Homo sapiens: one gene and its partner. The protein of the gene in region 1 interacts with the protein of each later gene in a pairwise test. Each region holds a gene or a part of one and is shown on either strand. Other genes may lie near its edges.

What was found. The genes of interacting proteins can lie anywhere in the genome.
Region 2: the proteins of TBX21 (region 1) and ZNF490 interact in a two-hybrid assay, tested with the Homo sapiens proteins (one large-scale study listed by BioGRID and IntAct).

The regions. Positions count from the first base shown.
Region 1 is NC_000017.11:47,742,936-47,746,783, reverse strand, and holds the end of TBX21 (T-box transcription factor TBX21), read right to left. Parts: intron 3,714-3,848; coding exon 3,592-3,713; intron 2,590-3,591; coding exon 2,431-2,589; intron 2,303-2,430; coding exon 2,241-2,302; intron 2,037-2,240; coding exon 1,418-2,036; 3' UTR 662-1,417; downstream 1-661. UniProt on the Homo sapiens protein: Lineage-defining transcription factor which initiates Th1 lineage development from naive Th precursor cells both by activating Th1 genetic programs and by repressing the opposing Th2 and Th17 genetic programs.
Region 2 is NC_000019.10:12,600,743-12,604,703, forward strand, and holds part of ZNF490 (zinc finger protein 490), read right to left. Parts: intron 1-3,961. UniProt on the Homo sapiens protein: May be involved in transcriptional regulation.

The DNA of each region.
Region 1 (3,848 bases):
TGGGCAACAAGAGCAAAACTCTGTCTCAAAAAAAAAAAAAAAAAGTATGTATTATTTTACAAACACAATTCAGTGTGTATAAAAAGACAGACAGAAACAGCTAGAAACTGTTGGTAACAGTAGCTTACACAGTGAGTGCTTACTGTTTGTCAGGCAATGTTCTTAAACCCTTTACATGTATTAGCTTGAGTCACATAAAATTGCTAATATTTGGCTTTTCGACCTACAAAAATGGTAATTTCACATGGCTCATTTTATATTTATTTCTTTAATCCTTGAATAACCCTAGAGATAAAGGTGGAGGGCTGCTAGAAATGCAAAGAAAAATCAAGTGCCACCGCCTCACAGCGCCCTGCACCCCCGCTCCCAGTCCAGCCCTTGGCCTTGCCCTCACACCCCTCCTTTCAATGTCAGGGTGCACACAGGGCAAGGGATTCTTCTCTGTCCGTCCCAAGATGCCTTAAGAGGTAGCATCAACCAACCCCCTGAGTGCTGAAGGTAGGACATGTGGCCTTGCTGTAACTCAGCTGGAGTCATTTCAGGGTCTTAGCAGGTTCCCCATAAATGAAAGCTGACAGAACACCTTGGGTACACCAGCTTGGGTACAACCCCAACTGAGTCCCCATCCATGTCCCCCCATGCTGGCACTGAGGCAGGCACATTCAACAGTTTTATGTTTATTTTCAGAAAGTGATGAAGACAAAAGGAATATATCCAGACACCACTCTCAGTACAATAAATAGCCTCCCCCATTCAAAAAAAATAAAAAGAAAGAAAAAGAAAAAACACACACCCACACACAACCACCACAAACAATATCTTGCTTCTTGAGATGTGGGCCATTCCCCCCTTTCCAGCCCCTTTTCTCTGATCCCCACTGTGTTTGAGCAGGGGGAGCCCAGGCCAGCTGTCCAAAGTCAGGTGAGTCCTTTCCCTGACCCTGGCGGGCTGATGGTTATAACATACGTGTATTTGTTCTTTTTGGATCAGGGATTAACACACATGCCAACGAAAAGGTTGAAAGTTACTGTACAAAGGAAGAAAGTGGAGTCTCCTGCTCCCATGTCCCACACCTGACCCCTCCCACCCACTAGATGCAAAAAGCTCCTTCATGCCCAAGACTTTCTTGTCTTCTTTTCTCCAGCTGGAAACCAAAAGCAAGACGCAGCACCAGGTAAACGACTGTAGTTAGGGCAGAGGATGGGGCAAGGGGACACCCCTCTCAGGTTTCATCGTGGGCCAGGAAGCATCTGGTGAACCCCAAAATCCTTCTTGAGCCCCACTTCCCCAACCAACTACTAAACAGAGAAGGGCCAGAGGGAGCGGGGGCCTTCTCAGTCCTTCATCCGTTTCCCAAATTAGTCGGTGTCCTCCAACCTAATAACACTGTTTCTGTTCCTTTCATCATGTCATCTGCTCAGTTGGGAAAATAGTTATAAAACTGTCCTTCAGCTTCCTTATCAAAAGGAGAAGGGGCCCCAGCAGGGGAGGAGCTGTCACCACTGGAAGGATAGGGGGACACGCGCCTCCTCTTAGAGTCTCCTTCGCCCAGTCCTGAATCACTGGATTCCGGCCGGATGGGGGCAATCTCAGTCCACACCAAGGGGGGACCCTGGTCCTCTGGTCCCCGTCCCTCTGAGCCTCCAGGGCCGGGTTCCATGGGCAGAGTCCGCATAGGGCGGAACCAGCTGGCCGGGCCCATCTTGGGAGGGTACTGGGGTGCCACAGGCCAGCCAGCTCCAGGTGCCAGGACCTCCTGGCCTCGGTAGTAGGACATGGTGGGCCCAGGGGCAGAGGGCAAGAATGCAGGCTTCATGCTGACTGCTCGAAACTCAGCCTCATAGCTGTGGTCCCGGGGGGCCCCCAGCCAGTAAGCCTGGGGAACCACATCCTTCGCCTGGCCAGGAAGGTCGGGGTAGAAGCGGCTGGGAACAGGATACTGGTTGGGTAGGAGAGGAGAGTAGTGATCTCCCCCAAGGAATTGACAGTTGGGTCCAGGCGGGGAGGGGATGCTGGTGTCAACAGATGTGTACATGCTAGAAAAAAATAGAAGGCAAGAAAACGGGTCACAAGCAGAACCAGTCACCTGTGAGCCTACCTGTTTCACACATTCCTTCTCCGACCCTCCTTCCCTGGCCTGCCCACCTGTAGCATCTGTCCCCCACCCTCCTGTTTTCAGGGGCAGGGAGAGGATGTGTCTCAGGAGGGACCAAAGCTGAGTTGAACCCAGTGGCACTTACGACTCAAAGTTCTCCCGGAATCCTTTGGCAAAGGGGTTATTATCAATTTTCAGCTGAGTAATCTAGAGAGAAGGGAAATAGAGTCACCTGAGTCCTGAGTCTGGGGCTCGGGAACTTTCCAAATCCCTCCCAAGGAAGACAGTGGGCCCCACTCTGCCCTCCTCCCCACCGGGGCTCAGGCAGCCCTCACCTCGGCATTCTGGTAGGCAGTCACGGCAATGAACTGGGTTTCTTGGAAAGTAAAGATATGCGTGTTGGAAGCGTTGCAGGCTGCCTCTGGCTCTCCGTCGTTCACCTCAACGATATGCAGCCGGGGCTGGTACTTATGGAGGGACTGGAGCACAATCATCTGTAGACAGAGCAAGACGGTTGTAGGGGTGGGGAGGAAGGATTTCGAGGATCCCATCACCCCCACCAACAGCTGGCCCCACGTGAGGCTAGCAAGCACCTTGAGGTCATCCTGTCCATTCCCCTGCTCTGCCACCATGTAACTTCCCCCAAGCTTTCCAACTCCAGTGTCCGGACTCTTTGGGGCACCAATTCTAGCCTCTTGCCCCCTCTTCTACCTCCAGATGTCAATTGAGACCAAGGTATCAGCACAAACAGGGCTTTAGGGCAAGGGCACTTTTTTTTCTTTTTTCTTTTTTCTTTTTTTTTTTTTTTTGAGACGGAGTCTCACTCTGTCACCCAGGCTGGAGTGCAATGGCATGATCTCAGCTCACTGTAACCTCTGCCTCCCGGGTTCAAGCGATTCTCCTGCCTCCGCCTCTTGAGTAGCTGGGATTACAGGCACCCGCCACCATGCTTGGCTAATTTTTGTATTTTTAGTAGAGACGGGGTTTCATCATCTTGGCCAGGCTGGTCTTGAACTCCTGACCTTGTGATCCACCCGCCTTGGCCTCCCAAAGTGCTGGGATTATGGGTGTGAGCCACCACACCCAGCCAGCAAGGGCACTTTTAACAGGATTGTTCAACCTAGAGAAACTCGGCATCTATTCCCTGGGACCACAGGGCCAACTCTGTGCCTTTCATGGTGCCGGAGCAATGGCAACCCATGATTTGGTGAAGAAACCCTGAGGCTGGGTTGGCCTGTGTGGCCTGAATATGACCCCCGTCCAAGATTCAGCTTCATCCCATCTCATCTTCCTCCCAAGGTGGGTGAGAAACAGCCAGAGTTTAGGAAGGAGGAAAAATGACCCTTCGTTTAGGACAGAAGAAAAACGAACCTTCCTTCCTGTAGGAAGGAAGAAAAAATGAACCAAACTGGCCCCGCAGGACCCTTGTGGCCTTGGAGGTCTCAGACCCAGGGTGGGGAGCAGGGCGAGGCTACCTTTTGAAGAGCAGGTCCTACCTGGGTCACATTGTTGGACGCCCCCTTGTTGTTTGTGAGCTTTAGTTTCCCAAATGAAACTTCCTGGCGCATCCAGTGCGCTCCTGTGTTGGGGGAGTCCGGGTGGACGTACAGGCGGTTTCCTGTGGACAGTTCACCTCTTTGACATGCAGCCCCCGGGACAGAACCCTGGTGATGTAGGGCTTTGCCTGTCCCGAGAGGGACGTAAGGAAGGACACAGGGGGAGGACCAGGCAGGGAAGGGCAGAGGACTCAGCA
Region 2 (3,961 bases), on another chromosome or scaffold:
GCTATAAAGCTCTAACAGGTGCTCTTGAATGCAAGTTTTAGATAACTTTGGAGATTGTGACATCAGAATAGAGAAAAAATGTTCAGGACTCTTGTCCTAGCACTTTGGGAAGCCAAGGTGGGTGGATCACTTAAGCCCAGGAGTTCCAGACCAGCCTGGCCAACATGACACAACCTGTCTCTCCAAAAAATACAAAAATTAGCCAGGTGTGGTGGTGCACGCCTGTAGCCCCAGCTACTTGGGAGGCTGAGGTGGGAGGATCCTTTGAGCCTGGAAGGCAGAGACTGCAGTGAGCTGAGGCTCACAGCTTTCCAGTCAGGGAGACAGGGTAAGACCCTGTCTCAAAAAAAAAAGAAAAAAAAAAGGCCAGGTGCGTTGGCTTACGCCTGTAATCCCAGCACTTTCGGAGGCCAAGGCGGGTAGATCACGAGGTCAGGAGATCGAGACCATCCTGGCTAACACGGTGAAACTCCGTCTCTACTAAAAATACAAAAAATTAGCCAGGCGTGGTGGCGGGCACCTGTAGTCCCAGCTACTCGGGAGGCTGAGGCAGGAGAATGGTGTGAACCCGGGAGGCGAAGGTTGCAATGAGCCGATATTGCGCCATTGCACTCTAGCCTGGGTGACAGAGCAAGACTCCGTCTGAAAAAAAAAAAACAAAAACAAAGAATTGGGGTCTCACTCTGTCACCCAGGCTAGACTAGAGTGGTACAATCATAGCTCACTGCAGCCAAAACTCCCAGGCTCCAGCAATCCTCCTCCCTCAGCCATCAAGCAGCTGGGACTACAGGTGTATGCCACAAACCTGGCTAATTTTTTTTTATAAGATATGAGGTTGCACTATATTGCCCAGGCTGGTCTTGAACTCCAGGACTCAGATGATCATGCCACTGTGCTCGGCCCAATTTTATTATTTTTTGTATGTCTATCCAACTGTCACAACACCAATTTATGAAAATAATATTCTAGGCCAGGTGCGGTGGCATAGGCCTGTAATCCCAGCACTTTGGGAGGCCAAGGCGGGCGGATCACGAGGTCAGGAGATCGAGACCATCCTGGCTAACATGGTGAAACCCTGTCTCTACTAAAAATACAAAAAAAATTAGCCGGGCTTGGTGGCAGGCTCCTGTAGTCCCAGCTACTCAGGAGGCTGAGGCAGGAGAATGGCGTGAACCCGGGAGGCGGAGCTTGCAGTGAGCCGAGATCGCACCACTGCACTCCAGCCTGGGCGAGAGAGCAAGACTCTGACTCAACAAAAAAAAAAGAAAAAAGTAAAAAAAGAAAATAATATTATTTCCCGATTCCTGGCACCGTTTTTGAAACTCAGTTCACTATATACACACACACACACACACACACACACACACACACACACACACACACACATATATGGGCCTATTTCTGGAATTTCAATTTCATGCCATTGATCTCTATGTCTGAATTGCCTCATGTATTTGATATGAAAATTTTGCTGCTACTGGAGACTGGGTGACATAAATTAAATTGTATATCAGAAAACCTTTGGCTGGCGCGGTAGCTCCCGCCTGTAATCCCAGCACTGCGGGAGGCCGAGGCAGGAGGATTACCTGAGGTCAGGAACTTGAGACCAGCCTGGCCAACAGGGTGAAACCCCATCTCTACCAAAAAAATAAAAATAATTAGTTGGGCATGGTGGCAGGCACCTGTAGTCCCAACTATGTAGGAAGCTGAGGCAGGAGAATCACTTAAACCCAGGAGACAAAGGTTGCAGCGAGCCGAGATGATGCCACTGGACTCCAACCTGGGCAATAGAGCAAGACTCTGTCTCAAAAAAAGAAAACCACTGAGGTCTTCCTAGAGGGTAATGGTCATCTACACAGTGCAGCCCATCATGTATATTTCTTTTTTTTTTTTTTTGTCGAGACAAGGTTTCACTATGGTTATGCAGGCTAGAGTACAGTGGTGTGATCTCGGCTTACTGCAGCCTTGACCTCCCAGGCTCAGATGATTCTCTCACCTCAGCCTCCCGAGAAGCTGGGCCTACAGGTGCGCACCACCACGCCGGGCTAGTTTTTTGTATTTTTAGTAGAAACAAGGTTTCGCCATGTTGGCCAGGCTGGTCTCAAACTCCTGGGCTCATGCAATCCACCTGCCTCAGCCTCCCAGAGTGCTGGGATTACAGGTGTGAGCCACCACACCTGGCCCCATCATGGGTTTTTCTTATGTGCAGAGTACTTATTCAAATCCACAGTGATTTCCCAGTTGACACACAGACAAGAACTATGGATTCTTAGAGAATATCCAAGTTATAATTGAATCAAACTGCAGAGAGAGGGTATCATTTTGAGTACCACCCCCCAGTTTGGTGGAAAAGAAAGTTGTGATATTGTGAAATATATAATTTGGGTTTTGTCCAGGGTTCCTGGCTCACAGTTGCTAAAAACCTTGTAATTTCCTAAGCGACTAGAGCAATTGGAGTATCTTTTGTTAAAATATTTGGGCTGCCTGTAATCCCACCATGTTGGGAGGCTGAGGCAGGCAGGATGCTTGAGCCCAGGAGTTCAAGACCAGCCTGGGCAACACAGTGAGATCCTATCTCTACAAAAAATACAAAAATTGGCCAGGCATAGGGGTGTGTGCCTATAGTCTCAGCTACTTGAGAGGTTGAGGTGGGAGGGTCACCTGAGCTCAGGGAAGTCAAGGCTGCAGTGAGCTGTGATGACACCACTGCACTCCAGCCTAGGTGACAGAGTAAGACTCTGTCTCAAAAAACAAACAACAAAAAAAAGGCTGGGCGCTGGGGCTCACATCTGTAATCCCAGTACTTTGGGAGGCCAAGGTAGGTGGATGCTTGAGCTCAGGTGTTTGAGACCAGTCTGGGCAACATGGCGAAAACCCATCTCTACTAAAAATAGAAAAAAATAGCCAGATGTGGTGGCGTGCACCTGTAGTCCCAGCTACTCAGGAGGCTGTGGTGGGATCATTGCTTGAACCCGGGGGTGGAGGCTGCATTGAGCCAAGATTGTGCCACTGTCACTGGGTGACAGAGTGAAGGAGACCCTATCTCAAAAAAAAAAAAAAATGGCCTTTTGTATTCAGTTCTTAAAATAGCTCTAGAAGAGTTCCAGAGTGACAGGTGGAAGAAATGTCTTTAGTTATTCATAACCATCCCCTTTCCACCACAGCTAAGTTTATGTTAATGGGGTGATTTTTGGAAAGCTCCTACAAACCACAGGATGTGAGGCTAGTTGCCAGGGAACCAACCATGTGACTGGAGCTTTGAAACTTTCAGCTCTGTCCCCACCTCCAGGGAGGGAAGAGAAAACTGAAGGTTGAGTTGATCACCCATAGTGAATGATGTGATTAATCATGTCACCATAATAAAGCCACCATAAAAACCCAAAAACACGGCTCAGAGAGCCTTCTGGTTGGTAAATAAGAACATAACCATATGCCTGGAGGTATCTCTTCATCTGGCTGTTCATTCGTATCATTTAAAATATCCTTTGTAGGGCCAGGTGTGGTGGCTCACGCCTGTAATCCCAGCACTTTGGGAGGCTGAGGCAGGTGGATCACTTGAGGTCAGGAGTTCAAGACCAGCTTGACCAACATGATGAAACCCCATCTCTACTTAAAATACAAAAATTAGGCCAGGTGCAGTGGCTCACACCTATAATCCCAGCACTTTGGGAGGACAAGGTGGGCGGATCATGAGGTCAGGAGTTCGAGACCAGCCTGGCCAGCATGGTGAAACCCTGCCTCTACTAAAAACATAGACACACAGAAAAAAAATTAGCTGGGCATGGTGGCATGGGCCTGTAATCCAGCTACTTGAGAGACTGAGGTAGGAGAATCACTTGACCCTGGTAGGCAGAGGCTGCAGTGAGCCAAGATTGTGCCACTGCACTCCAGCCTGGGCAAAAGAGTGAGACTCTATCTCAAAAAAAAAAAAATTAGCCAGGCGTGGTGGTGGGCGCCTGTA